4 linked regions of the Homo sapiens genome follow. The protein of the gene in region 2 interacts with the protein of the main gene of each other region in a pairwise test. Each region holds a gene or a part of one and is shown on either strand. Other genes may lie near its edges. The genes, in order: TMEM128, GJA1, TJP1 and NINJ2.

Evidence for each region.
Region 1: the proteins of GJA1 (region 2) and TMEM128 interact in binary tests that used the Homo sapiens proteins (3 or more experiments, as listed by UniProt).
Region 3: the proteins of GJA1 (region 2) and TJP1 interact in binary tests that used the Homo sapiens proteins (3 or more experiments, as listed by UniProt).
Region 4: the proteins of GJA1 (region 2) and NINJ2 interact in binary tests that used the Homo sapiens proteins (3 or more experiments, as listed by UniProt).

The regions. Positions count from the first base shown.
Region 1 is NC_000004.12:4,244,596-4,253,385, reverse strand, and holds the start of TMEM128 (transmembrane protein 128), read left to right. Parts: upstream 1-5,162; 5' UTR 5,163-5,183; coding exon 5,184-5,280; exon of another isoform or gene 5,281-5,760; coding exon of another isoform or gene 5,761-5,785; intron 5,786-7,042; coding exon 7,043-7,184; intron 7,185-8,790.
Region 2 is NC_000006.12:121,438,646-121,445,645, reverse strand, and holds part of GJA1 (gap junction alpha-1 protein), read right to left. Parts: intron 2,030-7,000; exon of another isoform or gene 1,953-2,029; intron 1-1,952. UniProt on the Homo sapiens protein: Gap junction protein that acts as a regulator of bladder capacity. A gap junction consists of a cluster of closely packed pairs of transmembrane channels, the connexons, through which materials of low MW diffuse from one cell to a neighboring cell.
Region 3 is NC_000015.10:29,713,776-29,722,004, forward strand, and holds part of TJP1 (tight junction protein 1), read right to left. Parts: intron 6,934-8,229; coding exon 6,583-6,933; intron 6,242-6,582; coding exon 6,002-6,241; intron 5,364-6,001; coding exon 4,491-5,363; intron 4,344-4,490; coding exon 4,246-4,343; intron 3,064-4,245; coding exon 2,836-3,063; intron 1-2,835. UniProt on the Homo sapiens protein: TJP1, TJP2, and TJP3 are closely related scaffolding proteins that link tight junction (TJ) transmembrane proteins such as claudins, junctional adhesion molecules, and occludin to the actin cytoskeleton.
Region 4 is NC_000012.12:652,884-661,112, forward strand, and holds part of NINJ2 (ninjurin-2), read right to left. Parts: intron 1-8,229. UniProt on the Homo sapiens protein: Its role in unclear. In contrast to NINJ1 paralog, does not mediate plasma membrane rupture (cytolysis) downstream of necroptotic and pyroptotic programmed cell death.

The sequences.
Region 1 (8,790 bases), on a different chromosome or scaffold from region 2:
CTAGGCTCACTTGAAGATGATTCAAGTGATTTTTACCACATAGTATGTCCCCTAAGTGAAAGACACTAACATCGACTGAACACTTTCCATGAAACATGCTTTTCCATTTAGACCCTACAGGGCAAGCCCATTCCAACTCTCTTCATCACATGGTATGAGAAGTAAGAAACAAAACATAGGTATGAACGTATATTGAATATGATCAAACTTAAAAGGTAAACAAATTGGAAAAAAAGTAGACTTGCCACATATTTGAGGTTCAAAGACAGACAGCCTTGATCTATCAAAATATGCAAAAATGAAAATTCCAAAAGGAAAAAGACATATGCATAGTCGATTAACATAAAAAAATCTGTTAGCAAAGAAAAGCAAATTAAAATGGCAGTTCGCCCCGGCCAACAACTATCACTTGGGAAAAATTTATCAAAATGATAAAGCCCGCTGTTGGTGCAAACATTGAAGATGGCCTCTCCTGCCCTCTGCTGGTGGGAATTTAAACTACAGTAGTATGGTAAGTCCTTTCTGGACCTTCTTTGAAAATATCAATCAAAAGTCTTTAAAATGGCCAGGCGCCGTGGTTCACTCCTGTAATCCCAGCACTTTGGGAGGCCGAGGCGGGCGGATCACAAGGTCAGGAGATCGAGATCATCCTGGCTAACATAGTGAAACCCCGTCTCTACTAAAAATGTAAAAAATTAGCCTGGTGTGGTGGCGGGCGCCTGTAGTCCCAGCTACTCAGGAGGCTGAGGCAGGAGAATGGCGTGAACTCGGGAGGCGGAGCTTGCAGTGAGCAGAGATCGCGCCACTGCACTCCAGCCTGGGCAACAGAGCGAGACTCCGTCTCACAAAAAAAAAAAAAAAAAAAAAAAATCCCGTCTCTACTAAAAATACAAAAATTAGCCGAAATTAGCCGGGCATGGTGGCATGCGCCTGTAGTCCCAGCTACTCGGCAGGCTGAGGTAGGAGAATTGCTTGAACCCAGGAGACAGAGGTTGCAGTGAGCTGAGATCATGCCACTGCACTCCAGCCTGGTGACAGAGCAAGACTCCATCTAAAAAAAAAAAAAAAAAAGTCTTTAAAACGTTTGTATCTTTTGATCTAGGGATTCCAATGCTATAGCTTTTACCAGGGGAATAATCACAGCTGTGTAGAAATAGGCACACATTTTATTGTGTTTTTATACAATCAATGGAAGAACTTTTTAAAACTAGCTTTCTTCTTGGAATGAAGAACAGTATCCTAAATGATAGATATTAACATTCACTGAGCACTTTCCATATGCCAGGTACTTTTCTAAGAGCTTTACCTGTATTCTCATTCCTGGAGGCGCTCACAGAATACCTGGGGACCAATGGGGCAGCTACACAGCACAGTGAGAGAACAGGGTGGTACTGGTCTGGCCTCAGAGTTTCAAGTAACAGAAAACAACTGAAATTAAAATTAATTTAAAAAAGGGAAAATTTAACCATCTGTAAAGTCTCAGCAATGGATAATAACAGCTAAGATTTACTGAGAGTTTTCTATGGGCTGCTCTAAAGACTTCGCATGTATTAATACTTTTAATCTTTACCCAATCCTGTGAGGTGGGTATTATTCTTAACCCCATTTTGCAAGTGAGGAAACTAAGGCAAAGAGTGGATAAGATGCTTTCTCAAGGTTCAAAGAGTCAGTAATGACAGGACCGGCAATGACAGCCAGGCAGGCAGCTAGCTCCAGAGCTCAGTTCCTTAACAGGATTAACTAAGGCTTGGCTAGATCTGGGAGGCGGCGCAATGCTACCAAGACCTCTTAGCTTGCCTCTCAGTGCTTCCTTCCCACGTGGGCTCCCATTTCCAGAACAGCAGCCCCAAGCCCAAACTGACCTCAGAGCTCACCATATCAAAGCAACCGTGAACATCTTCCCAGCCTAAGACGTGGAGGATGAGAGGTCTGTTTTGGGTCTTGTGCCCTCCCCTAGGACGGGGTCAGTCTCTGGGATCTGAGCAGGACCACTATAGAAAGCAGCAGTGGTTTCTCAGAGGTAGGCAGACACATGTATATCCATATTGAAGACAAGTTAGCTGTGCTCAAGGACCAAAGTAAGCACAGCTAATGGAGTTCCTGCCGTGTGCTCGGTGTTTGCAAGGTACTGGGGGATACCAAGACATGGTTGTTTCTCCCAATCAACTGGGGGAAACACAGGGCAAAAGGAAAATAACAATAAAGCTTGGTAATTCTTGGAAGAGAGACATGAATAGAGTCACTGGAACCCAGGGACAAGGGAACACTGATCAAGGGGCGAACAGGTGCCGGATCTTGAAGGCCTGGCAAGCCAAATTACTAAGAATAGTAACTACTGCTGTTTGGAGGCAAACTATGTATGCCAGGCACTAAGCTAAACAATCTGTATACATGTATCTTCACTCCAATACCCGATGTTTCACAGATGAGCAAACTGATACTTAGAACAATAAAATAACTTGCCCAAAGACCCACAGTGATGGAGGCAGGATTTGACAGTCTATACACACCTTGGATTTAACTATGTTGCTAAGGGGGGGCCAGTAAAGGTCACAATGAAATTCATTTGTTCCCCACAAGTAATCCACATTGAAAATGAAAATTTCTTAATTGGTAGCAAATCTGGTATCACATATCTATCTATAATTAGGGTGCCACAGTACACACATTGAAGGGTTTCTTTTCTTTTCTTTCTTTTTTTTTTGAGACAGAGTTTCACTCTTGCTGCCCAGGCTGGAGTGCAATGGGTGGTCTTGGCTTACTGCAACCTCCACTTCCTGGGTTCAAGCCATTCTCCTGCCTCAGCCTCCCAGGCAGCTGGGATTATAGGCGCTTGCTACCATGCCCAGCTAATTTTTTTTTTTTTTTTTGTATTTTTAGTAGAGACGGGGTTTCACCATGTTGGCCAGGCTGGTCTCAAACTCTTGAGCTGAGGTGCCACCTGCCTCAGCCTCCCAAAGTGCTGGGATTACAGGCATGAGCCACTGCACCTGCCCAAAGGGCTTCTTTAATGGACCTCAGAAATGAAGATGTGGTCATTAAATACTGGAATTTTTCCAACCTCCTTTTAAGTATCATCAATATGCTGTGCAAGTAGTGCCATTTAAAATTGCAGAGAAAAAAACTCTGGAAGGATTTCAGATCCAAATTCAAAGGCCCCGAAACCACAAAAGGAGAAACCTGATCTGACCTGAACATACCATGTATGGGAACCTGGGATAGCGGCGATGCTCTTGGGAGTATTCAGTTACCACGGAGGCCCTGCACTGACCCTTTTTCGAGGAGACAATCAACAGAAGATTGTATTTGATGGGACAAATTCACTTCCTGTTAACAAGGCTTCTAACCCCGTACGAGAGAGAAGAGAGGGCAAAGACTTCAGTTGACTTTGAATAAATGAATCCAGTTCTTTAGGAGTCTTGAAAGAAAAAAAAAACAGAAAAAAAAAAACAGGATAAAGGAGGTATTGTTTAGAAAGGCCATATGATCCACCCAGCTGTTAAATCCTGTGCTCCGAAGGGGGAAGAAAGGCTGAAGAAATGATAAATCAGTAGGGATTTGGTATTTCTCTCTTTTTTTTAATTTTTTTTATTTTTATTTTTGAGAGGGAATCTCACTCTGTTGCCCAAGCTGGAGTGCAGTGGCAGGATCACTGCAGCCTCCTTCTCCCAGGTTCAAGTGATTGTCCTGCCTCAGCCTCCAGAGTAGCTGGGATTACAGGTGCCGGCCACCATTCCCGGCTAACTTTTGTATTTTTAGTAGAGACGGGGTTTCGCCATGTTGGCCAGGCTGGTCTCAAACGCCTGACCTTGTGATCCGCCCGCCTCGGCCTCGCAAAGTGTTGGGATTACAGGCGTGAGCCACCGCGCGCGGCTGGCACTCTTTTCTTGAGTATTTCTTATTACATTCCTTTTACAAACACCCCAACACATCGAAGATATTAAACAGTGCCTACTAATTCAAATTTTACTTCCTATGTAGCTGGCTCTCCACCCCTGTATTCAACTCACCTGAAACCACTCTCCCTGCTCTCCCACACTGCAGCAGAATAAACTGCCCTTTATATGTACAGTGTTTCTATTATGCCCCATGTACAGTGTTTTTATTATGGCACTGTATTGAAGCTGCTTCCTCTACTAGATTCTTCTGTCCTCACCATTTTATCACATGCAGCTGCTCAGAAAATGTTGGCTGCATTGATGAAATGCTTTCATACATTTACAAATAGAGTTTTCTTGTAATATACCTCTGTGGTTTTCTTTGGACAAGGAGCTCCTCACGTGCAAGGCCATGTCTTACTCATCTTTATCTCCACTGCTAGCATGGTGCCTAACAGCTCCTACCAAATAGTAGATGCTCAGTAAACGTTTGCGTGGCTAAGCCCACCATTTCTCAGCACATGACACGCTGGGAAACGGCTGGGAGAGTAATACGCGGGATTATTGACGAAGAAAAAGTTGTGAACTCGTAACACACAGTTTGTGGGCGTGAGCAGTGTGGAAAACCGCAGTTTGCTGGGAAAGCAATTTAGTTCCCTCGGTTCAGGCTGGGAGGATTTTTCACAAGTGGCGAGGAGGAGGCTCACATGAACCACATACAGGTACTTCTCACTGAAACGCACAACAAATCTAGAGCCAAGTGTAATAACGAAACGGGCCCCAAGAAGTTTATTTAATGCCCAGGGCCCCCAAGTGGTCACTGCCAGGCTCTAGCATCCTGTCCAGCAGGCCTTTCTCCTCCTTTCAAGTCTTGCTGGACGACTCCTGAAAAGCAAAAGTAGGAAAAAAACTGGGGGCTGAGAGTGGAAGGCTGGACAGAGGGTATGTCTCCTGCTCTGGCACCCGGAAGCCTGCGAGGGCTTCGGAAGCGCAGCGTCTCACGGTCGCGCATCCCGGCCCTGGACGCATCCAGCGGCAGCGGTAATCCTGGTCCTCCTGGGCTTCCGTAGGTCGGAATAAACTTGGGAACTCTTCCACCGGCAAAGCTCAGTGTTTTAAAATTCAAATCACACTTGCCGACATGAGAGCGGAACCTTTGAGGCCGACTCCACCCTAGCTGCTCGCTAACTAAACAGCGAAGAGAACACAGTCTCCAATCCAAACGCCAGGAGGTCCAGACCCGGAGCGGACGCCGGAAGCGCTGTGTCTGACGTCACTTCCGTCGCATTTCGGGGCGGTACCAAGATGGACTCCTCGCGGGCCCGGCAGCAGCTCCGGCGGCGATTCCTCCTCCTGCCGGACGCCGAGGCCCAGCTGGACCGCGAGGGTGACGCCGGGCCGGGTGAGGCGCGCACCAAGCCGCCCCGAGGTTCTCAGAGGCGAGGCGTCGGAAAACGGCCGGCCTCCGGCAGCCCTGGCCCAGTCTGGAAGGACTGAGTTTCGGCTTTGCAAGTCGAATATTTAATGTCAGGGAAGATCCTTAGAATCGCGGAGTGCTGTGCATCGTCATTTCAGCTGCGCTTCAGAATTCTCTGGAGAGCTGATTTGACACCTATTTGGAAATAGCGATTAAAATTAAAAATACCCACCAGTTTTAAGTCTTAAGGATTTACCAGAAACATGCGTGTACCGCAGTGTACAATGATGTGCGCAGTGTTTCACTTCAGGATTGCTTGTAATAGCGAATTACTGGAAATATCTGCCTTGCCCGTCAGCAGAAAGCTGTTTAAGTAAATTTGGGTATATGTATACCTGACACATCAGGTCGACTCGTATGTACCAATGGGGATGATTTTCAAAGGGAAGTGTGGAACACTATGGTATGCCGCCATTTGGGTACAAAACAGGTAACTTGTGATGTATGTTCACCTGTGAATGCATAGAATATGGAAGAATTCAGTAGAAATTGTAAGTGGTGGTTGCTTCTGGGGATTAGATCTGAGGTTAAGGATGGGAGACAGATACTTCATTTTGGATATTTTTTATCTCATATGTTTTAAAACCACGTCCATTTATTACCTTTTAAAATTAAAAACACGAATAACCTCATGCCCAGGCATGATGATGTATACATTTTGAGGATATCCCAGAATATTACGAACATGCTTCCCAGGGTTTCCGATGGTCATCTAAAGGCCCAAAACCTCAGATGTGGACCATTGATTCTCACGTGAACCTAGAGGGCATGTCAGAATCCCCGGAAAACTTAATAGAAATCATCCATCTGACCCAACCCCCATCCACCCATTCTTTCAGATTGCGTTCCAGACAGGAAAAATGTCTTGTCCATCACCTGTCTAGACAGTGCTGTGCTGGAACTAGAGCTCTGGTGTGCCGTTTCCACTTTTGAGCTGTGTTTAAAGTAACTAAAATATTTAGTTATAGGCTGGGCAGGGTAGCTCACGCCTGTAATCCCAGCACTTTGAGAGGCTGAGGCGGGCTGATCACGAGGTCAGGAGTTCGAGACCAACCTGGCCAAATAGAGCAGCCTGGCCAAGATGGTGAAACCCCGTCTCTACTAAAAATACAAAAATTAGCCCGGCGTGGTGGCAGGCGCCTGTAATCCCAGGTACTCGGGAGGCTGAGGCAGGAGAATTGCTTGAACCCGGGAGGCGGTGGTTGCAGTGAGCCGAGATCAAACCATTCCACTCCAACCCGGGCGACAGAGGAAGACTCCGACTCAAAAAAAAAAAATTTAGTTATAAAAGTGTTCTTGGAAGACCACAAGTCCAGTTCATGCGCTAATGTTTGCCTTTGGCATTTTTCCTAATTAACAAGACTAATTACTTTCCTAGAAGAAATGTGAAACATAATATTAAAATTCTTACATTTCCAGGTGACATTGTTATTTCCGAAAGACGATGAAAGTGTAAATTTGATTTCACAATGTATTTAGAGGAAATAAATTGACTGTATTGACCATATTTTATAGTGGGCTCTTATTTTTTGTAAATATAAACCTATCTCAAGGGTTTTACAGAAGGATTTGTTATCATGGGAGAGACTGTTTCTTAGCTCTAGGAAATGATTTTATTTGGCTTAAGTGTAATTTTTCCTCGCAAAATTGTGGTAACTTAATAAGTTGAAATCTCCCTTATTTGCAGAAACCTCCACAGCTGTTGAGAAAAAGGAGAAACCTCTTCCAAGACTTAATATCCATTCTGGATTCTGGATTTTGGCATCCATTGTTGTGACCTATTATGTTGACTTCTTTAAAACCCTTAAAGAAAACTTCCACACTAGCAGGTAAGAAAATTTTATTGCTTTGTAAATTAAACCCAAGTCTGATTTTTCGTGTTATATTTTGTTAGTTGAATTCTTCAAACAGTAAGCACCTACTACTCTCTGCCAGGCCCTGTGTTGGAGGTGTGGTGATACGAAGATGAATATGAGATGGGGGTCAAAGGGTACATATTTTTAGTTATAAGATGAATAAGGTCTGGAGATCTAATGTACATACAGTATAGTGACTATAGTTAATAAGGCTGTATTGTATACTTGAAATTTTCTAAGAGTAGGTCTTGTGTCCTCCCCCTGTTACCCCACCAGTGGTAACTATGTGAGGTGATGAGTGTGATAATTAACTTGATTGTGGTAATAATTTCACAATGTGTGTGTGTGTATATGTATACACGTATATATATATTCATATATATGTATATATGTATATATTCATGTGTGTGTGTATATATATATCAAGTCATCACACTGTATACCTTGAATATATAAAATTTTAATTTGTCAATTGTACTTCAATAAAGCTGGAAAAAATAAAACCAATGAGAGGGTGTGTGCTCTGGGCACATACAGTAGAGTGGAATAGAACTGGAAATTATTTGTGTGCAAATAAATGTGTTGTAGGATGAGGAAGGTAGTAAATTTAAGAAGAACCTAATCCATTTGGGGAAAAGAGGGAGAAAGACTGACTGAAGGTCTTCAAAGACCAAGTACAAGAGTACTGGGAGGAAGAGCCGAGAACTGTGGCCAGTGGGAATTGGGTCTCAGGGTTGGTTTCAGAGGGTGGTTACAGCTGACAAGGTAACTACAGGGTGTAACTGTGTTAGAGTGGAGGTGAAGGTCCACAGTGGGAGGAGTGACAGCTTTGTGGCCAGACCAGATGTCCAGTAGTTCCTCATTCACAGGGACTGAGATCCTTTCAGTATAGTCTCCAGAGTTGACATGGAGGAGAGGGTTGGAATCATATCCTAGGGTCCTTACTGCACATTGGAGAGTGATGTGGAGACCCTTGGATAAGAAATGGAAGGGAGAGGTATGTTGGTGAGCATCATGGCATTGGGAGGGCTGGTGTGCTTAGGGTCAAGAGTAATAATTTGGAAGTACCAGTGGGGGTAGGAAGATGCAGACAGGACTGTGGTCCCCTCGTATCATGGCAGGACACATGATTTCTCCTCAAGGGCCTTCAGGAGGAGCAGTGACTTCTGGCGGAGGAGACTGTCGAGCCACAAGGAAAAAGCCCACAGGGGAAAGTAGGCAGAGGGGAGTTTATTTAAACTGTCCTCTACTTTCTAGGGGAGAAACTTTCCCTAAACACTCCCATCTTCTGCCCCTCCATGTCACTCACTCCTTTGTGGGAGGTGGCGTGACTGATTGAGTGTGTGATGAAGAACTGGACAAAGGTAGCTCAGCACCTTCTTCTGCTGCAAGTCGGCTGCCCATAGGAAGCGCAGAGTCTGGTCTGCCTTCCCATGGTGTCATTCCACAGGGGCAGTCCCCACAGGAAAAGGTCTCTAGGTTTTCATTTTGACCTGGAACCCAGTGGGTAAGGCTGTTTCTGGGTGTCAGAGACCCAGTATTAGGAAGTGCTTTGTCATCACTCACCAAAGCCATATTC
Region 2 (7,000 bases):
ACAAACAAACAAAACCTACTTCAGGGTGTTTTCTCCAGCCAGAAAAGATTGGTTTTCATCTTTCATTGTTATATACTTTAAAGTTCCCTTACTGGGCTTTGGACCCTCAGGCTATACATCCCATTTAACTTCTTATCAATATCTAGCTATCTAAAGTCCACGCCTTCTCCATTACTGAGGATAAGAAAAAGATCTGGCCAGGCGTGGTGGCTCACGCCTATAATGCACTCACGCCTATAAGCACTTTGGGAGGCGGGTGGATCATGAGGTCAGGAGATTCAGACCATCCTGGCTAACATGGTGAAACCCCGTCTCTACAAAAAATACAAGAAATTAGCCAGGTGTGGTGGTGGGAGCCTGTAGTCCCAGCTACTCGGGAGGCTAAGGCAAGAGAATCGCTTGAACCCGGGAGGCGGAGCTTGCAGAGATCACGCCACTGCACTCCAGCCTGGGTGACAAAGAGAGACTCCGTCTCACTAAAAAGATGTAAGTCAGTAGAAACCAACAAGAATCCCCAAAGTTGTCTAGTTCAATTTATGCTTCTAATTGCCGATTATCCATTTAGCTGATAAAAATTGAGGTTCTCAGAGGTTCTCAGGGTATAGGAAATATTTAGCTATAGACAGAGCCAGAAGAAGATTCACAATCCCCGGGCAAGTCTTTTCAATGCCTCACACTGGTTTTAAAAGTACAGTAAGGCTGCGCTAAAGCTAGAAATGTTTCCAGGCTTTGATATACACAACCTTAGCCAGGGCTGAAAGCTGGGAAGAAGTGAGTAACATGATGTGGCAGGCATAGGGAATATAGGCTAATTTTCAGCACATAGTAGTAATTGGAGGATTTAGAAAAGGACAAATTAGTCAAAGATTGTTTAATAATTAAAAACAAGCAAAGCTAAGACTTTGCAGGAGCTTAGTAATGAATTCTAAATAGAGTATCTAAAGGTAGGATTATTTAGGCTTCTTAGAAATATGTTCACTATCTGAATATAAAGGAGTTTCTCTTCTGGTGTTGAACTATTGAGCTGTATCTCCTTGTAGGAAGTAAATGAAATCCAGGGGAGTCTTCTTCCTCAGTAAGCAACATTACATTTCTGTCTAATGACTGCATCTTCTGGCCATAGAGAACAAGAAAAAATGAAATGGGCACCTGACCTGGGATTTCCTGGACCGAACAAAGAAGAGATGGCTGAGCCATAAAGCTAAACTATGCACCAGCTAGATGGTACCACGGTATCATGGGTACATTTGATGACAGCCCAGGGACTAGTGCCAAAGAATGCTGAGTAAGAGTGGGAGGTGGGTGTGAAGGCCACAGAAATAACACTCCCCCAGTGGTCATAAGAAAGGGAGCTTCCCTTTTACTTAGGAAGGGTCATTTTAGATTCTGAAGTGACAAGTTAGGAAGTGAAATTGATGTATGAAAACAGCATCAATTTAAAACAGCAGTCAAATAAGAACAAAGGCTTGAAAGGCTGACAAAGACAGTTGAATAGCCAAGGAAAGGCTTGAAGTGAGGGAGTAATTTAGCCGTGATGGACAGTTTGATGGTGAGAGAATGTGAAAGAAAAAAAAACCCTACAATTTAGCAGAAAATACTAGACTGGAAATGAAGAAGTATAGTCCATGAGGGTCAGACAAACAGAATCTTTGGAGCTATATCAATAGACAGTTTCTATGTGATGATGTGTAAAATTGGCCCTAATTCTGTTTGTAAAAAATTACAGTATTTTGCCAGTGTCATCTGCTTTTGCTCACATATTTCAATTGCTAGGGGAAAAATAACAAAAACAATCAAGTATAAAAAGATAAACTTTGCATACATCTCATCACATTCATGCAACGATAGAGCTGAAGACAAACCTATCATATCTAGAAATATGACCAGGCAGAACAGAAGTTATTTTAGCTAGGATTTCATCATTACTCAAAGTAAAATATGATTGTGTAGATGCTTATAGTAATTCATCACTAAGTTTATTTACATTCTAGTAACAAACTATAGAAATGATCCCTGAAAGTATAGTCTTTATTTACATTCTATAAAAAAATTCATGATACATGACTTTCATATAATTTTGAGATTCTACAAAAACACTCCACAGTTCCATAGTATGTGAACTAAGTCATCAGACAGCTCTTCATTAGTTCTTTTTTAATACTCTAGTAACTTAATTGCAAAGTTGTCTTTTCTTTAAGCACCCATGCAGTTGTCATTTGCATTAATGAGTTATACTCTTTCATCTTAATAAGATACGAATTATCGAATTGGACACCGAGTATCCTGTAACATGTAGCTACCTGTCGATCTCCACTATCATAGATACCATCAAATAATGTTTAATGTGACAGCTGCCCAAAAACAGGTAACAAAAATTGTTCCCTTTTTTTTTGGTAGTTGCTCACTTTGCCATGAATCAAATTTTGGCAACTGGTTGTTCCTCCCTGCTGCACCTTCCCAAACTAGTTTAATATCTTCATTTTTCCAAGTCTTGTATGGTAAGTTAATACCCTCTTATAATAAAAGGGCATAATTATATGTTTACAGAATCCCTGGCATTGATCTACAGACTATAAACTGCACTTTTATTCACCAGGGGGAAACAGGTATATTTCTTATTTGATACATGAGAAGACCAACGCAGCTGGACATATCACATATATTCATGCCTTCACCTCTAGGATACTGAGTTGGTGCTTTATATGTAGACCAAGGTCTGTCTAAGAGGAGTTGTGCAAAGTTCTTGTTAAGAGCAGAGTCTTAGCAGCTGGACCACGCTTTTTGCCGTCTATGCACCATGTTAGATTACATTTCCATTGCTCTTCATGGCCCCCTAGACTGGATGGATGCCCAAAGCTACAGGCACTAAGTGTGACCAGCCTGAGGCTCCTCTGGCCCCTTTCCTGAACTGCATCACAGTCACTTGGCAGCATTTGTTAAAAACATACATTCCTGGTCTTCACCAGTCTGAATGAATCTGAATTTCTGGAGGTGGGGCCTAGGAAGTAAGGTTTTTTTGGTGTTTGTTACTATTCTTGACATTTCTGGCCCTTTCTTGTTCAAAATATTTAGGAGTGGGAGAAATGTCAGGAAAGCAGAAGGAACAGTCTAAAAAATCCAAGGGGCTGAGTACCAGGAGCAGCAGCTCTCTGGGCACCCGGCATTGAGGTCAGCCTTGGCTCCACAGCCCCTTGTCACTCCTTACATCTCCATCTGCAGCTCCCTGAGAGCAGAAGAACTTAAACGCTTTAATTCAAATGAGATCTCTTAAAAATAAAGCTTTGATTTTAAATTACATTTGACTATGCCTTTTGCTAGAGCATGTGCCGAAGTTGCAGTCAAGTCTTTCCATGCCATTAATATACTAATAGTTATTAGAATTAAGTATTTTACTATCGACTTTAAATATTTTTCTCAAGAAGAGACAAATGTAATGAGTTGAGAATGGAGACTTAAATAAAGGTAAATAGGATTATTGAAAACTAAAGTGAAATTTGATATCCAGCATCTTTTTATGATTGAAAGAAAAGAGAAGGTGAAGGACTTTAATATCTGAAAGAATAAAATCAGAGTCTAAACCTACATAAGGAAATGTCTATGGAAGTTCCCGATAAAATCATTTAATGGATTTTTTGGGAGGAAAGGGAAATCATGTGTGTGTCTAATGTACTAACACCCAAAAATATTCATGCCCAAAAACTCAAATGCAAACCCTTGTAATGTTTTCTTTCACTTTTATAATAACCTCTGCCCCTCCAGTAAATGTCATTGAGTGAACTCAGTTGTCTATTCCTCCGCACTTAAAACAGCCACCCTTAGCTTGATCTCAGCCATCATCAGTTTGCTAGGTTTCATGTCATTAGCCTGGTCACCCTACTTGCCAACCTATACTCCGAGTAATCAGTCAATCTTGAGAAAACAAACCAACAATCAGCTTGGTTTGATGAGCTCTGCTCCATCCACGCAGCTCACGTCCTCACTTGTTGCAGGTCTCACCTCATCAGCCAACTTTCCTGACCACCAAATATGAAATAGCAACATCCTTTCCCCAGTCCTGTCATTTCCTATTCCCTTTGCCCTGGTTTTTAAAAAATTATTATTTTAATAGACTTTCTCTCTACTTGATATAGTAAATATTTGCCTGATTACTATGTACCTCCTTCCATGAGAAGGATTTATTATTTGTCTTCCTTAACTGGAATGTGAACAATACGAGGGAGTTTGCTTTGTTCACTGCTGTATCCCCAGTGCTTGAAAGAGTAAGAGATGTGGCTCACACCTGTAATTCCAGCACTTTGGGAGGCCGAGGTGGGAGGATCATCTGAGGTCAAGAGTTTGAGATCAGCCTGGCCAACATAGTGAAATCCCATCTCTACTAAAAACACAAAAAAGTAGACCGGGTGCGGTGGCTTAAGCCTGTAGTCCCAGCACTTTGGGAGGCCGAGGCGGGCGGATCACGAGGTTAGGAGATAGAGACCATCCTGGCTAACACAGTGAAACCCCGTCTCTACTAAAAATAAAAAAAATACAAAAAAATTAGCCGGGCGTGGTGGCGGGCACCTGTAGTCCCAGCTACTCGGGAGGCTGAGGCAGGAGAATGGCGTGAACCCGGGAGGCGGAGCTTGCAGTGAGCCGGGATCGCGCCACTGCACTCCAGCCTGGGCGACAGAGCGAGACTCCGTCTCAAAGAAAAAAACGACAAACAACAACAACAACAACAACAACAACAACAAAAAAGTAGCCAGGCGTGGTGGCGGGTGCCTGTAATCCCAGCTACTCTGGAGGCTGAGGCAGGAGAATTGCTTGAACCCGGGAGGCGGAGGCTGCAGTGAGCAGAGATCACACCACTGCACTCCAACCCGGGTGATAGAGTGAAACTCCGTCTCAAAAAAAGAAAAGAAAAGAAAAGAATTAATTAATTGGGGTATAGCTACATGTTAAATGAATTAAATGGGGCTTCCACAAAAAATAGAAAGATACTGTGCAAAAAAAAAAAAAAAGTTTGTTTTTTTCTGTCTCTTTGGGATTCTCTTAATTGTAGTTATATCTCAAATTTCTAAAGTTTCAAATTAATTAAAAAGGAAACTTCACAGTAAAAAACTATTGTCATCATCTCATTCTCATACTGTTAAATTTTCAAGTGACAATTGCTGAAACAGAGAACTGTTTGTTGAAACAACATGCTTCAAATGATTCCTGAGCAGGCAAAAGAGCTAAATTAAGAAAAAAGGCTCTTTGCAACCCCCACTGCTAAATTTGACAGGCTTAAAAGAAAAAAGAAAAAAGGCTTTTTAACAAAGAGCTTCCTGAATTTGTTAAATGAGATCCTAATGAGGGTTAGGATTCTTGTAGAACTGCATCAGGTATCATGCTTGTACATTCAGTTCACTGTTAGGTTGTTGCAGGTTAAGATTTAAAACACAAAACAAAAAAAAAAAGGAAAAAACACAACTGTGTGGTTGTCCCCTAGTTCTACGATGTTCTAACTCCGATTGCACCACACAATTTTATTGTAGACAAGGACACTATTACAAGAAGAAATAGCCTGTTTAAAATCGTGTTTATTTCAAGAATGATAAATATCGGGGAAGGCTAGGGCTCTGAAGGGGAAGAGCAGCAGTTGATATTAACCCTGGTTAATGTAACATCTTTACAGTCTGAGTCTATGCAGGCACTAAAGTGATTAGATTCAAGTACCATGGAAAAGATTCCCAGTTCATCAGATAATACCCAACCTTTACTTCCTTATTTATACCTAGATGGCCTAACTATAGTGTATCAAACTTACTGTATGTAAAAATATATTTATAAATAATTGCACATTTGTGTAGGTATTTGATGTTGTGAACTGCTTATTTTGGGGGCAGAGGGGAGGACAACATAAAAACACCAACAAGCCTTCCTTCCCCAGCTCTTACCCCTCCTCATCACTGAACTTACATTAGCATCCACTTAATGAGATGAGATGGGAATTGAGGTGTGAGGAACTCCATCCAAAGAGAGGATGGTGCATCCCATAAAAGACAATCCTCTCCCTAGTTCAACAGCTACTACTCAATTCTCCCCCAAAACAAGTTTCTCAAGATCAATTTAGGGCTACCAGAGAGAAAATCCCAAGTCAGAAGCTGAGGCTAAAAGCCATGTTCTTCAATTGTGATGTAACTTAATATATTTCTATCAGTCCTTGGCGTTTCCTCTGCCCCTACTCTTACTTCCACCTCCAAATTGACTATTTTTAGTGAATAGCCTTGTTATTTTATAATCATATAAAGACACCCTTAGGGCCCTCACAAGTGTATTGATTAAGATAGTCTATTTTTTTCAATGAGAATTTAATAAATAACTCATGCATGTGATGCTCTTAGTAACAGCTCAGTAAAGTTTGGTTCTTACTCTTTAGACGACCTTTAGATATAGCTCATTTGGTTTTAAATTTTTCATCTTTTCTTTAGCAAAACAGCAACTAAGAAATGATTGACAAACATACATTTTCTTTTTAAAATTTTTTTTTATAGAGGTGGGGTCTTGCTATGTTGCTCAGGCTGGTTTTAAACTCCTGGCCCCAAGCGATCCTCCCACCTCAGCCTCTCAAAGGGCTAGGATTACAGGCATGAGCCATCATGCCCAGCTGACGATAAACATATATTTTTCTTAAAATATTATTTTAAAAGCATAGGGAAATTGGAATGTGAAATTTATGAAATTGTATAAGCCACTGATGTATTAAAAAAAAAGAGCTAACCACAGTTTGAAAATAGGTAAAAGACAATCTGTACATACATAGTTAAAAGGTGACTTTAGATGGAGGTTTAGACAATTATGCTAAGAATTTAAAAAATATATACATTAATCTCCCATGGAAGAGATGCTCTGGAGATTTTTTAAAACTTGAATTATCCATACAGAATATTACATTAATAATAAACACTAGATAATTACTTTTTCTCTCCAGAGTTGAACTGGTGTGTGCGGATAAGCTCCCACACATCTCTTCAAATAA
Region 3 (8,229 bases), on a different chromosome or scaffold from region 2:
ATTAAATACCTATATGGGAAAATGCAGCACAATTATAAAGAGTTTCAATTTCACACTACAAAGGAAAAAAAAGTATACTGGTATCCAGCCCAAACTATACTTTTCTCTCTCACAGCAGCAGGGAGTAAAATCAAACTGAGTTCTGAGTAAATTCACAAAGACAGATGTCATCTGTTTCACAATATATCCCTGTGAAAACAATGACCAGGTAATACAGGTTCCTTCCAGAGCTGTGTTAATGAAAAGAAGGGTGGTGGATGCACCTAGTATACCATGCCCTGTTTTGAGCTTCATTCACTCAACAATTACTGAGCCCCTACTGCATGCAAGGCAATGTTCTACACCCTAAAGTTATACATCACAAATAAGCTAAGTCTTCTTTCTAGAAAAACAAATTAACACAGAAAGCAAACATGCATTTTGATTGATTCCCTGGCAAAACAACTTACTTTTTAGACCTAAATATACTCCTTTTTTTTTTTGAGATGAGTCTGGCTCTGTCGCCCAGACTGGAGTGCAGTGGCGCGATCTCGGCTCATTGCAAGCTCCGCCTCCCGGGTTCATGCCATTCTCCTGCCTCAGCCTCCAGAGTAGCTGGGACTACAGGCACCTGCCACCATGCCCAGGTAATTTTTTGTATTTTTAGTAGAGACAGGGTTTCACCATATTAGCCAGGATGGTCTCGATCTCCTGACCTCATGATCCACCCACCTCGGCCTCCCAAAGTGCTGGGAGTACAGGCGTGAGCCACTGCGCCCAGCCTTTTTTTTTTTTTTTTTTTTTGAGACAGAGTCTCACTCTGTTGCCCAAGCTGGAGTCCAGTGGCACGATCTCGGCTCACTGCAAGCTCTGTCTCCCGGGTTCACGCCATTCTCCTGCCTCAGTCTCCCGAGTAGCTGGGACTATAGGAGCCCGCCACCACGCCCCGCTGATTTTTTTGTATTTTTAGTAGAGATGGGGTTTCATCGTGTTAGCCAGGATGGTCTCGATCTCCTGACCTCATGATCAGCCTGCCTTGGTCTCCCAAAGTGCTGGGATTACAGGCACGAGCCACTGCGCCTGGCCATATAATCTTTTTAAGGTTGTATTCTATTTACCAAATATGTAAAACGATAAATAAGAGATATCTTTAAACTAAACACCTGAGCCTTCTTCTGACAGGAATGAATGTGTTTAACGGTGTTTAGTAAAAATAATAACTAAAGGGTACACCCTTCTGCCTTACCAAAGGTGAGCTCCTATGGCTCAGTGCCTAGCTCACTTTAGGCTAGTCACCATTTAGATGTTACTGTGATAACTGTGTAAATGAATTCCTGTAACACTGTAAATGTAAATGAATTCCTAATGACAAATCCACATCTGTTTTTGTTCTTGTGGGTTTTGTTCTGTTGAGGTATGAACCCAGCTGTGCACCTGTGTGGGTTTATATTGTGCTAGCTCACTTCAGTCCAGACACCATCTAGATGCCACAACCCCTTTCTAGTGTTGTGCTAAGGGGTGGTTCACAACACTAGTACAAGACACGTTTTGCATTTAATACAACCCCCACTGCAGCACTCTCAGTTTGCATTTGGATTCTCATAAACTGCTTTCTTCTGTAAACATAAAGCCTTAAATATAGGACAGTGAAAAAAGTCTTCACTACAAAGGATGTCTTAGAAAAAAGCAGTGGTAATTAAAATTAGGTTTTAATGTTAGTGGTTTTAAAGTATGTTCTAAAACAATTTACACTCAATAGTAAATGACAAATAGGTCATTTCCCAAGATAATCCCAAGCCCACGCAACTAAGTAAGGAAAAATCTAGGTGCTTTTAATATAGACACAATACTATGTGTGATGAATTCTAATATGTCAATCTGGCTAGGTACTGCCATGAAGGGATTTTTCAGGTGTAATGTCCCCAAGTCAGTTGAGGGGAGATGGTCTTGGGAGGGCCTGGCCTAATCAGCAGAGCCCTCTGAATGAGAATTTAGGCCTTCCCTGATCTCACACTCCCCAGTAGCTCAAAATCTTCCCTTCCTGACCAACTGCCCTCTGAAATAGGACTTGCTTAGCCAGCCCCTGTAACTGTGTAAATGAATTTCTTTTGACAAATCCACATCTGTTTTTGTTCTTGTGGGTTTTGTTCTATTGAGGTATGAATCTACCTGTGTGCCCGTGTGGGCTTAGACACAACTATCAGTACCAAATTCTCTTATCAGTCAGGGTTCAACCAGAGACACAGAACCAGTAGGAGACACAAACCCACGCAGGCACAAGAAAGGAGAACAAACCAACACGAAACCCAGGGATGAGTAAACGGAGGGGAGCAGCAAGCACAGGGAAAAGATGACTGGGAGTCAAGAAACTTGGGGTTCAGTCCCAGCTCTGCCCTGTCATTTTCCCTCACCTGTAAAACTGGATCAGAAATCTTACAAAAACAAAAAACAAAAAACCTCTTCAGTATTTCCCTCAAACAGGATCCTCCTCACATCTGTATTTATATTTAAAAAATAAAAACAGAAAAGAAAAAGAACCAGCATGACATCATTAGGTGTGTGTACAGAAGTGAAGACTGATGATTACCTATCGATGAGGGTCCTTGTGGTTGACACTGTCTTCCGTCAAAACCCTGTGATGTTAGCATCTTTGTGAATGCAAAAACTATGTACATCTAATAGCAGACTTTAAAAACAAAACACACATCCCAGAACTAAAAAGTATGTACAATGCTGAACCACTAGAGCCTACAGAAATCATATATTACACTTAAATTATTTTTCTTCAAAATATATTGAACTGCACGGGATTAATATGCTGCATCCTATTTTTAAAAGCCAGGTGAAATAGCTTACTTTGAAGAATAACTAGAAAAATTTGATTGATTCTGAGAATGCGCTGGCTTTGCAGGCTCGGAGAGATGGCTGGCGGCAATGTGTGCAGGAGGCTTATTCTCAAAACTTCTTCGGTCAAAGTATGACAGCTGTTTTCGATAATATTCTTCATCTTCTTCAGGGTCATAATGATTGGACCGAACAATATCTTCAGGTGGCTTCAGTTGAGGTTTTTGAGGTTCTGGGATCCTAACAGATAATGAATGACAAACGGAACACCTTTTTAAATATTAATGTTATGAAGGAAGTAGAATATGTAAGTCTTATCTTGACTAAAAGGTCAATAATTACTAACTGCTGTGATTACTGAGGATCTGAGCAGTCCCAACAGTTAAAATGGATATTTCAAATCCCATGTCCTCACAGAGTATACTCAAAAGGCAGCCCCCTTCTGGCTCATGAGTCCTTTAACACAATATAATAAGCTAAACGATTACATGATTAGGGAACAGCAGGTTAGAAGTAGTTAATCAGAAAGACAAAGGGCAATGTAACCGAGACAGTGAACATCTTGAGAAGTACATATACCAAGGTCAAGAACAGTAAATGATAGACTTTAAGAACTTTCAAAGGGATTTTTAAGAACTCAGTCCAGGATCTCAATGATTCTCATATGAACAAATAACTCTATATGGTCTAAAGTTCTAGAAGGCATACAAAGCAGATGAGGAAGAAAGCAAGTCATTAAGTAAATTCATATTAGACAGTTCTCTTCTTTATCCTAAGTGCAAACATATATTCAGTCAAAAAACAAAATCAGAAGAGCTGTATTCAAATCTAATCTGTCACTTATTGGCAGTGCAATGAGGCCATGGGAAAAAGCTCAGGCTGAGGAGCAGCAGGCCAGGTTTCTCTTCCAGCTCTAAGTCTTGTAAGCTACTTGCCCCTCTCAGCCTCAGTGTCTCTCTCTACAATGCAGAACAACAACAGTGTCACCTCATTATGCTGATGTGCTTAGCACAAGGGCAAGCACCTTATGCATGCTCACTAAATGATTTAGTTATCTTAACCAATCTGAGTCTGTTTCCTCACCACTGGAAACTAAGAGTTCACATGTCGAAAAGCACTTTTAAAACTAAAAAACATAATACAAATGTCAGAGCTTAAAAATGTTTATTTAATCATCTGCTTGGAGAATATCTTTCCGAAAGTCTGCTAAAGGTATAAAGATTTGTCAGATTTGTCAGAAATAAAGTTCTACTTTTTTTCCCCCTAGAATCACTGTTTAGGAGAGCTGATAGTTTTTATTTAAGGACAAACTCCTCCTATTCACACCTCTCCTCTACTAACACAGTAAAAGGTTTTCTTATTGACTAAGAGGGTTAAATTCCTGGTCAGTTCTATGCCACAAAGAGCACAAAGTGTACTCACCTGTACAGAGTTTTGTCATGTTCACTGAATTGATTCTGAGAAGTGGGTTTGGGACCAATGATGGGAGCACCTGAAGGTTTAGATGCTACTTCTGGAGGCTGTTTAAAAAAAAAAAAAAAAAAAAGACAAATATGCCTAAGGAACAGATAATTAACAGAATAGATATCATGTAATGGCGGAGGGGAGAGCCAAGAAGCCTTTTAAACGGTGTGCCCATGCATCCAAGGCACTAAAGACATATTTACCTTAAAACTGCCAGTGTCATTTACATCCTTCTTGGTCTCTAAGGATGCAGATCTTTTGTTTTCAAACATCTTAACTCTGGTGAGTACAGACTGTGGCTTCATTGCTGGATCTTCCTCTTCTTCGGTTTGAGTTGGGGGTGGAGGCAGTGGTTTGGTGTTTGAAGGCAGAGCTTCTGGCTTATGCTGAGATGAAGGTATCAGCGGAGGGACAGCTGCAGCACCATGGAGAGGCTCAAAATGACCTGCTCTAGAGGTAAATCCTTGGGGTGGTACTTGCTCGTAACTGCGTGAATATTGCTCAAAATACTGCTTGGACTCTGCAGGCTTGGGCCCTGCTGAAGGGTGGGGCTGGGCTTCCGGTCTGAGTCTACCATGTGTGTCATACCCAGGAGCTGGCTGCTCTTCGTGCCGCAGGGCGGATGCTCTAGGTGCCTGTTCGTAACGTGGTCTGCTGTCGTAAGACAGAGGGGCTGGCTCTTCAAAACGTGGAAAGTACCCTCGTTCTGAGGACTCTTCGGGATGCTGTCTGGAGTCAAGGTCTTGAGAGTGCTGATTATCAAAAGGTGGCCGAGATGGGTAGGGCTGTTTGTCATCATAATATGACCACTGTTCTTCATACATGGGGACGCGATCTTCGTATCGCAGACGATGTTCATAGTTTCGAGAAAACTGGTCCGTATAGCTTGAGGACTCGTATCTGTATGTGGGCTGCTCGAGGTCTCTGCTGGCTTGTTTCTCTACGTATGGGAGTTGGGGTTCATAGGTCAGATTAGGCTCTTTGTCTGGCCTGTGCCCTGGGTGACTAACGGCTGGCTGTTTCAAAACATGGTTCTGCCTCATCATTTCCTCGGGATATGGATCCTTTCTATACACCTGTATAAAAAATTCACATTTAAGGACAAAGTCTTGTTTCTAATTCTAGTCTATTTTATTAGACTGTGATTAAATATTAAACTACGATTTAATATGTGAAAATGGTATGTTTTACCATTTATTATCAGGATAGACAAGATTAGTGGAAAAAGCTGGTTTAAGTGAAAGCTCAAAATTTATAATGCAGGTAGGGGCTTTTATGTTTCAGCATGTACTAAATAAACAGTGAGTTAAAGATAAATATTAAATTTAGTAGAAAATTAATGCACTATTGATTACACTTCATTTTGACACTGAAAAATCCTAAAGAAGATTTATGGGCATCATAATTTGTATTAACATAAATATGTTTATGATGGGTTTCGATTACATATTAAGGAATTCTGGAAGATACTGAAAGCCAAAAATAAAAATAATAAGCACAAATCTCAATTAAAAGGCCTGTTTTCAAATAATCAGTATACCAATGGAAGCCATGCAAACTACGAAACTGAAATGATTTGTATTGATTTGAAAGCATTACAGTGTATAAGCCTGCAGTAAAAAAGCAAAAGGAACACTTAAAGGGCAAAGCAAAAATGATCATGTGCCAGATTGATGGACAGCAACAAATTAGTGCAACACCGCAGCACAGGTACCTTTGTTGGATCTACATGCGACGACAATGATGGTTCTTGATCTCTTAGCATTATGTGAGCTGCCTCAGTACTTGGTGTTCTTAAAGAATCAGCTTGTGGTGAGTAAGAGGTGGAAGGAGCTGGGGTGGGCTCCTCCAGTCTGACATTAGTTAAATTTACATTATGATTAACAGCAGAGGTTGATGATGCTGGGTTTGTTTCAGGCGAAAGGTAAGGGACTGGAGATGAAGCTTCTGCTTTCTGTGAAGTGTTTAAAATATTTTAAATATAGTGTTTCTGTTTACTGCTAACTTTCCACTTCAATTTATAGTGATTGGTAGACATACATTTTAAGTGTGCTGAATAACAAAATTATGACCTCATGTCCTAAACTTTTTGGGAAAAAAAAAAAATCCAGTACATTGCTGTGTTAAGACAAACACACAAAATTTAGAATTAAGCCCTTGGTACTCTCAAATTGAAATTGAAGATTAATTCTTAATCTGGAGAAAGGACAACATATATATTTTTAACTCAATCACCACATTCTAAAATTTAATAATGCACCTCTATCTACAAAACGTTGAATGCTTGCTGCTTACCTGTTGAGAGGCTGGCTTAAATCCAGGGGAGTCTATTCTATGAATTGGTTGTGGCTGCGCTTGTGGTGAGTAAGGAGGATATGTTTGGTTTTCATGATGCATTCCAGAGGAGTCCTCTCTTACAGGCTCAGAGGACCGTGTAATGGCAGACTCCGGTGGAGTCCCAACCTCATCATTAAGAGTTTCATCTAGTTCTTGATCAGTGTAGGCCCCGCCTTCTGTGTCTGTGTCTTCATAGTCAGAAGTGTGTCTACTGTCCGTGCTATACATTGAGTATTCACTACCTGGAGCTGACAGGTAGGACAGACGATCATCATGCAAATCAAGGTCATCACTTGTAGCACCATCCGCCTGGGTCAAATAAAAGTAAATTACAAATTTTATTCAGTAGTTCTTTAAGAGATGGCCTTTATCGTACAAGGCAGATTGAAAAGGATATCTTTCTCTGGAGAAGTCACATCTACTTCTTGAAACTTCTGGTAAGGAAAAGTCAAGAAGATTGTACAAGCACACACGCAGACACATGGAGCACCCCTTGAGATCTGAAGGGCATGGATGAAGGAAACAGTGGCCGGTAAGCCAGGACAAAGTTAGACTCCAGGGCCCAGCCCTGGAAGACAACGAAGAAACTCTGACACTGCTCAGATTTATAAAACCTACTCACTAGCTCTTCAGCCCTTTTAAGCAAGGGGAAGAGGGAGAATGTTACCAAACTAAGCTCACAGAAACAAGGACACACTGACAGAATAGCACATGGAAGAATACCTATGAAATAAACCCAACAGTTCAAAAGTTGAATAAGAGCTAATATATTTATGTTTAGGAAACAACTGATATGGTTTGGATTTGTGTTCCCACCCAAATCTCATGTTGAATTGTAATCCCCAGTGTTGGGGGAGGGGCCTGGTGGGAGGTGACTGGATCATGGGGGTGGTTTCTAATGGTTTAGCACCATCTCCCTCACACAGTCTTGTGATAGAATTCTCCCAAGATCTGTTTTTTTAAGTGTGCAGCACCTCCCCAACTCTCTTCCTCCTGCTCCAGCCATATAAGACATGCTTCCTTCCCCTTCCGCCACGATTGTAAGTTGCCTGAGGCCTCCCCAGAAGCAGAAGCCTGTACAGCCTGCAGAACTGTGAGCCAATGAAACCTTTTCTTTATAAATTACCCAGTCTCAGGTGGTTCTTTATCACAGTGTGAGAATGGACTAATACAGTAAATTGGTACCAGAGAAGTAGGGCATTGCCAAAAAGATACCTGAAAATGTGGAAGCAGCTTTGGAACTGGGTAATGGGCAGAGGTTGGAACAGTTTGGAGGGCTCAAGAGAAGACAGAAAAATGAGGGAAAGTTTGGAATTTCCTAGAGACCTGTTGAATGGTTTTGACCAAAATGCTAATAGTGATATGGACAATAAAGTCCAGGCTGTGGAGGTCTCAGACAGAGATGAAGAACTTACTGGGAACTGGAGTAAAGGTCATTCATTCTTGCTATGCTTTAGCAAAGACACTGGTGGCACTGTGCCCCTGCTCTAGTGATCTGTGGAACTTTGAACTTGAGAGAGATGATTTAGGGTATCTGGTGGAAGAAATTTCTGAATAGCAAAGCATTCAAGATGCGACCTGGCTGCTTCTAACAGCATGTGTTCA
Region 4 (8,229 bases), on a different chromosome or scaffold from region 2:
TTGCAGTGAGCCGAGATCACGCCATTGCACTGCAGCCTGGGCAACAAGAGCAAAACTCTGTCTCAAAAAAAAAAAAAGAAAAAGAAAAAGAAAAAAATTCATACATTTGTGATATACAAAGTAATATTTTGTTTCTTTTTTTTTTTTTTTTTTTTGAGATGGAGTCTTGCTCTGTCACCCAGGCTGGAGTGCAGTGGTGCGATCTTGGCTCACTGCAAGCTCCACATCCCAGGTTCACACCATTCTCCTGCCTCAGCCTCCCGAGTAGCTGGGACTACAGGCACCCGCCACCATGCCTGGCTAATGTTTTGTATTTTTAGTAGAGACGAGGTTTCACCTTGTTAGCCAGGATGGTCTTGATCTCTTGACCCGTGATCTGCCCGCCTCTGCCTCCCAAAGTGCTGGGATTACAGGCGTGAGCCATATTTTGTTTCTTATACTTAATTGATCTAACAGTTTGTTCAAAATGAACAAATCAAAATATCAACAATATATTTGATTATGTATACTTATGTATATGTTTTATGATGTATACACATATATATGTATACATATATGTGCGTAAAATGAATGCCAGCAATGATACGTGGAACAGGATGGAGGAATTAGGATTGTTTTGTTATCATAAGGTACTCACACGATCCATGAAATGGTATAGTGTTATTTGAAAGTGCACTTGGATTTGTTGTACTTGTAAACTGCAAACTCCAGGGCAATAACTAAAAAAAGTTAAAAAAAAGTACAACTGATACACTATGAATGGAGATAAAACAGGAACATATAAAATGCTCAGTTAAAACCACCAAAGGCAAAAAAAAAAGTGGAAGACAAAAATAGGAGCAAAGAATGAGGGTAACAAATAGAAAAACAGTAACAAATGTGGTAGATCCAACTATATCAGTAATCACTTTGAATGTCAATGGTCTAAGTGCATAATTGAAAGGCAGAAATTGTCAGGATGGACACAAAAAGAAGACTCAACTGTATGTTGTCTACAAGAAACTCACATTAACCATAAAGATACATATAGATCAGCTGAGTGTGGTATCTCACCCCTGTAACCCAGCACTTTAGGAGGCTGAAATGGGAAAATCACTTGAAGCCAGGAGTAAGACTAGCCTGGGCAATATAGTGAGACCCCATCTCTACAAAGAATAAGAAAATAGCTGGGTGTGGTGGTTTGTGCCTGTAGTCCTAGCTGCTTGGGAGGCTGAAGTGGGAGGATTGCTTGTGCCAAGGCATTTCAGGCTGCAGTGAGCCAAGATGGTGCCACTGCACTCCAGCCTGGGTGATGGGTGATAGAGTAAGACCTTGTATCAAACAAAAAAAGACACATACGGATTAAAAGTAAATGGATGGGGTCAGGCACGGTGGCTCACGCCTGTAATCCCACACTTTGGGAGGCCGAGGTGGGCAGATCACCTGTCAGGAGTTCGAGACCAGCCTGACCAACATGGAGAAACCCCGTCTCTACTAAAAATATAAAAATTAGCCGGGCATGGTGGCACATGCGTATAATCCCAGCTACTCCGGACCTTGAGGCAGGATAATTGCTTGAACCCGGGAGGCAGAGGTTGCGGTGAGCCGAGATCATGCCATTGCACTCCAGCTTAGGCAACAAGAGTGAAACTCCGTCTCAAAAAAAAAAAAAAAAAAGAATTATACACCACACCAACTGGGGTTTAGTCCAGGTATGCAGGACTGGTTCAACATTTGAAAATCAATTAATGCTAGGTGCAGTGGCTCACGCCTTTAACCCTAGCACTTTGGGAGGCCGAGGTGGGTGGATCACCTGAGGTTGGGAGTTCAAGACAAGCCTGACCAACATGGAGAAACCTGTCTCTACTAAAAATACAAAATTAGTCGGGCGTGGTGACACCCGCCTGTAATCTCAGCTGCTCGGGAGGCTGAGGCAGGGGAATCACTTGAACCTGGGAGGTGGAGGTTGCAGTGAACTGAGATCAACTATTGCACTCCAGCCTGGGCAACAAGATCCAAACTCCATTTCAAAAAAAAAAAAAGAGAATAAAATAAAAACAAAAGAAAATCAATTAATGTAATTAATCACACCAACTGACTAAAAAAGAAAAATCACATGATCATATTAATAGATGTAGAAAAAGTATTTGGCAAAATTCAACACCCATTCATGATAAAAACTCTCAGTACACTAGATAATTTCCTCAATTTGATAAAGAATATCTACAAAAAGCCTATAACTAACATCATACTTAATGATAAGAAAGTAGAAGCACTCCCACTAAGATTAGAAACAGGCAAGGATGTCTCCTGTCACCACTGCTTCATACATTGAATTTGCATTCAGTATGAACAAGTCTTAGCAGTTTCCCAGTCTTTGCTAGGAAGTCCTAGTAAATGCAATGTAGTTCCTTCAGAAAAAGGAAATGAAGGGACTACAGATTGGGAGTGAAGAAATAAAACTATCTCTGTTTGCAGATGACATGATTGTCTATGTAGAAAATCTAAATGAACTGACCAAAAATCTGCTGGAACTAATAAGCAATTATAGCAAGGTTGCAGGATACAAGGTTAATACATAAAATGCAATCACTTTCCTATGAAACAGCACTGAACAAGTAGAATCTGAAACTTAAAACACTACCATTTACATTAGCACCTAAAAAAGTGAAATGCCTATGTATAAATCTAACAAAATATGTACAATATCTATTATGAGGAAAACTACAAAACTGATTAAATAAATCAAGGAACTAAATAAATGAAGGGGACAAGCGCGGTGGCTCACGTCTGTAATCTCAGCACTTTGGGAGGCTGAGGCGGGTGGATCACTTGAGGTCAGGAGTTCGAGACCAGCCTGGTCAACATGGTGAAACCCTGTCACTACTAAAAATACAAAAATTAGCTGGGCATGGTGGCACGCACCTGTAATCCCAGCTACTCAGGAGGCTGAGGCAGGAGAATTGCTTCAACCTGGGAAGCGGAGTTTGCAGTGAGCTGAGATTGTGCCACTGTACTCCAGCCTGGGTGACAGAGCAAGACTCCATCTTAATAAATAAATAAATAAATTTATAAATAAATATAAAATAAATAGATAGATAGATATTCCATGTTTATGGATAAGAGGACTCACTATAGATTCAAACAATCCCAATCAAAATCAGTTGTGAATATCAACAAACTAATTGTATAGTTAGTTTATATAGAGAAGCAAAAGACCCGCAGGGCGTAGTGGCTCGCGCCTGTAATCCCAGCACTTCGGGAGGCTGAGGTGGGTGGATCATGAGGTCAAGAGATCGAGACCATCCTGGCCAACATGGTGAAACCCCATCTCTACTAAAAATACAAAAAATTAGCTGGGCGTGGTGGTGGGCACCTGTTGTCCCAGCTACTTGGGAAGCTGAGGCAGGAGAATCACTTGAACCCAGGAGGCGGAGGTTGCAGTGAGCCAAGATTACGTCACTGCACTCCAGCCTGGAGACAGAGTGAGACTCTGTCTAAAAATAAAATAAAATAAAATAAACCCAAAATAGGTGACAAAATACTGAAGGAAAAGAACAAAGTCAGAGGACTGACACTACCCGACTTGAAGAATTACTGTAAAGCGGCCAGGCATGGTGGCTCACACCTGTAATCCCAGCACTTTGGGAGGTAGGGTCTGGTGGATCACAAGTTCAGGAGTTCGAGACCAGCCTGGCCAAGATGGTGAAACCCCATCTCTACTAAAAATACAAAAATTAGCCAGATGTGGTGGCGGGCCCCTGTAATCCCAGCTACTCGGGAGGCTGAGGCAGGAGAATCGCTTGAACTTGGGAGGTGGAGGTTGCAGTGAGCCGAGATTGCGCCACTGCACTGTAGCCTGGGTGACAGAGCAAGACTCTGTCTCAAAAAAAAAAAAAAATTACTGTAAAGCTACAATAATTAAGACAATGTGTTTTGGACAAAGAATAGACAAATAGATCAATGGAACAGAATAATGAACCCAGAAATAGACCCAACTGATCTTTGATAAAGGAACAAAGACAATACGATGTAGCAGAGATAGTCTTTTCAACGAATGGTGCCAGAATAACCGGGCATCCACGTGTAAAAATATGAATCTAAGCACAGACCTTCCACCCTCTACAAGAATTAATTCAAAGTGGACTATAAACCTAAATGTAAAATGCGAAACTATAAAACTCATAAATGATAATATAGGAGAAAATCTAGATGACCTTGAATATGCTTACAACTTTTTGTATACAATACCAAAGGGTACAATCCATGAAAGAAATAATAAACTGGATTTTATTAACATTGAAAACTTCTACTCTGTGAAAGGCAATGTCAACAGAATAAGACAAGCCACAGACTGGGAGAAAATATCTGCAAAAGATGCATCTAATAAACAGTTGTTATCCAAAACAGACAAAGAATCTTAAAATTCAACAACAAGAAAATAAGGCCGGGCGCAGTGGCTCACACCTGTAATCCCAGCACTTTGGGAGGCTGAGGCGGGTGGATCACAAGGTCAGGAGTTTGAGACCAGCCTGGCCAACATAGTGAAACCCCGCCTCTATTAAAAATACAAAAATTAGCCGGGGCATGGTGGCGCATGCCTGTAGTCCCAGCTACTCAGGAGGCTGAGGCAGGAGGATCGCTTGAACCCGGGAAGCAGAGGTTGCGGTGAGCTGAGATCGGGCCACTGCACTCCAGCCTGGAAGACAGAGCGAGACTCCTTCTCAAAAAATAAATAAATAAATAAGTAACCCCACTAAATATGGGCAAAAAACCTGAACAGCCACCTCACTAAAGAAGATGCAAAGGTAGCAGATAAGCATATGAGAAGATTCTCCACATCTTATGTCACTAGGGAAATGCAAATTAAAACAAAAATGGGATATCACTGCACAGCTACTAGAATGGCCAACATCCAGAACACTGACAATACCAAATGCTGATGAGAATGTGGAACACCTATTCATTGCTGGTGGACATGCAAAACAGTATAGCCATTTTGGAAGACAGTTTGGCAGTTTCTTCCAAAACTCAACACACTCTTACCATATGATCCAGCAATTGCAATCCTTGGTATCTTCCCAAATGAATTCAGAATTTGTGTTTACACAAAAACCTACACAGGCTTTTTTTTTTTTTTTTTTTTTTTTTTTTGAGGCAGAGTCTCACTCTGTCACTCAGGCTGGAGTGCAGTGGTGCGATCTCAGCTGGCTGCAACCTCCGCCTCCCGGGTTCAAGCGATTCTCCTGCCTTAGCCTCCCGAGTAGCTGGGATTACAAGCACCTGCCACCATGCCTGGCTAATTTTTGTATTTTTAGTAGAAGTGGGGTTTCACCATGTTAGCGATAGCCAGGCTGGTCTCGAACTCCTAACCTCAAGTGATCCACTCACCTCGGCCTCCCAAAGTGCTGGGATTACAGGTGTGAGCCACTGCGCCCAGCTGAGTGGCTTTATACAGAATGATACGTAATGCCAAAACTTGGAAGCAACCAAGATGTCCTTCGGTAGGTGAATAAAATAAACAGTAGTACATCCAGACACTGGAATATTATTCAGTACTTAAAAGAAATGAGCTATCAAGCCATGAAAAGAGATGGAGGAAACTTCAGTGCCATTACTGAGTGAGAGAAGGCAATCTGAAAAGGCTACATATTGTATGATTCCAGCTATGTGACACTCTGGAAAAGGCAAAACAAAAAGTCAGTCATTGCTAGGGGTTCAGAGGGGAAGGAGCAATGAAGAGGCAGAATGCAGAGGATTTTTAGGGCAGTGAAACTTCTCTATTATGCTATGCTATGCTATGCTATGCTATGCTATGCTATGCTATGCTATGCTATGCTATGCTATGCTATGCTATGCTATGCTAATGCTATGCTATGCTATACTATACTATGCTATAGCGGTGGAAACATGTTATTACGCATAGAATGTTTAACACCAAGAGTGAACCCTCATGTAAACTGTAGACTTTGGGTCATAATGATGTGTCAATGTAAGGCTCATCGGTTGTAAAAAAACAATGTACCATTTTGGTGGAGGAAGTTGATAATGGGGAGTCTATGCATGTGGGGCAAGGGGCTATATGGGAGATCTCTGGCCTTCCTTCTCCATTTTGCCATGAACCTAAAACTGCTATTACATATATAGTTGCTATTCTCTCTATATATAACTGCTATTATATATTATATATAATATATATATAATATATAACTGCTTATATATATATATGTCTTTAAAAACAATAAAACAAACAAACAAACAAAAACACTCCCAGAGTACTTTGCCTATAGACCTTCTTCTATTCATAAGTGTTTTTACCTCCACTCCCATCTCATTCTATCTGTATCTCGCTCTACTTAACCTGAGCTATACTGAATTTGCATTCGGTTTGGACAAGTCTTAGTTCCTCTTTTGGCAGATCATCTTCACATTTCCATCAACATGCAGCACAGGTGGAAAAAAAGGGGCCAATAACTGGATCTGCCTGGGGAATCTGGAAGCCCAAGAGGAGCTGCATTTTGGGAAGGAGCCAGGCTAGGGGCTTAAACTCTGTACTTGGGGGTAGGGTTGCAACACTGGCTCGAAGGGGAAGAAAGGGATTATCCTCAACCTTTCACACATCCAGACTCTGGGAGATGCGCAGGCTTAGCTCCCTGGCAGGGCTACCAGTGAAGGCAGGGAGAAGGGCAGAGGCTTGGAGGCCACAGCCACAGGCCATAGAACAGAAGGAGCAGCTCCAGGCATCCAGCTGGTGGAGGCCACCTGCCCTGAGTGCTGTGCGCCACTCTTCACAGCCAGCTGTGCTGCTGCTACCCATCCCAGTCTCACAGGTCTTGACCTGGAGATACATTTGCAACATTGATTATAGAGGCTCAAGTTAATGTTATTTTAGATTAGAGTTTCCCAAACTTCAGTTGTGCCATGTTCAGGGTTTCAACGTCTCAGTGCAGTAGTAGGTGCGGGCACACACACCTGTGATCCATGTCACCCAGGGCTGCCGTACTTCTGAACAGGTCAGACAGAAACAGTTACTAAGACATTGAGGGTATGCCCAGGTCATGTGCAAGGACTGTATAAAGGTGTCAAAAAACTTCCTGCCACTTACTTGAGGCTCATCCTAAGCAATAAAAATGTTGGAATTGCCTGGACATGTGGCTCATGCCTGTAATCCCAACACTTTGGGAGGCCAAGACAGGAAGATCACTTGAGACCAGCAGTTAGAGACCAGCCTGGGCAATACAGTGAGACCCCAATCACTAAAAAAAGAAAAAAAAAATTAGCTGGGCATGGTAGTGCACATGTGTGGTCCCAGCTATTTAGGAGGCTGAGGCAGGAGGATAACTTGGGCCCAGGAGGTTAAGGCTGCAGTGAGCCAAGATTGCACCACTGCACTCCTGCCTGTGTGACACAGCAAGATCCTGTCTGTTAAAAAAAAAAAAAAAAAAAAAAGGAATCACAGGTCTGATAAGTTGTTATGCTTTCTTTCTTTTTTCTTTTCTTTTTTTTTTTTTTGAGACAGAGTCTCAAAAGTGCAGTGGCACGATCTCCGCTCACCACAACCTCTGCCTCCCAGGTTCAAGCAACTCTCCTGCCTCAGCCTCCTGAGTAGCTGGGACTACAGGCGTACACCACCACGCCTAGCTAATTTTTGTATTTTTAGTAGAGACAGGGTTTCACTATGTTGGCCAGGATGGTCTGCAACCCCTGACCTCGTGATCCGCCCACCTCAGACTCCCAAAGTGCTGGGGTTACAGGCGTGAGCCACCTAGCCCGGCCCTGTTATGCTCTTTCTAATGAATACTGAAACTATAAAGATGGCCAGCTATGGTGGCTCACACCTGTAATCCCAGCACTTTGGGAGGCCGAGGCTTGTGGATCATTTGAGGTCAGGAGTGCAAGACTAGCCTGGCCAATATGATGAAACCCTGTCTCTACTAAAAATATGAAAATTAGCCAAGTGTGGTGGTACATGCCTATAATCCCAGCTACTTGGGAAGCTGAGGCAGGAGAATCACTTGAACCCAGGAGGCGGAGGTTGCAGTGAGCTGAGATTTTGCCACTACACTCCACCCTAGGCGACAGAGTGAGACTCCATCTCAAAAAAAACTGTAAAAATAAACATTATAATAAAAAGCTGTCAGCCATTGATGTACCTTTACCACCCATTGGTGATAATTGTACCACATTTTGGGGAAACATTGTTTTAACTAAAGAGTGTTATTGTTTTGTTTTTAGAGATAGGGTCTGGCT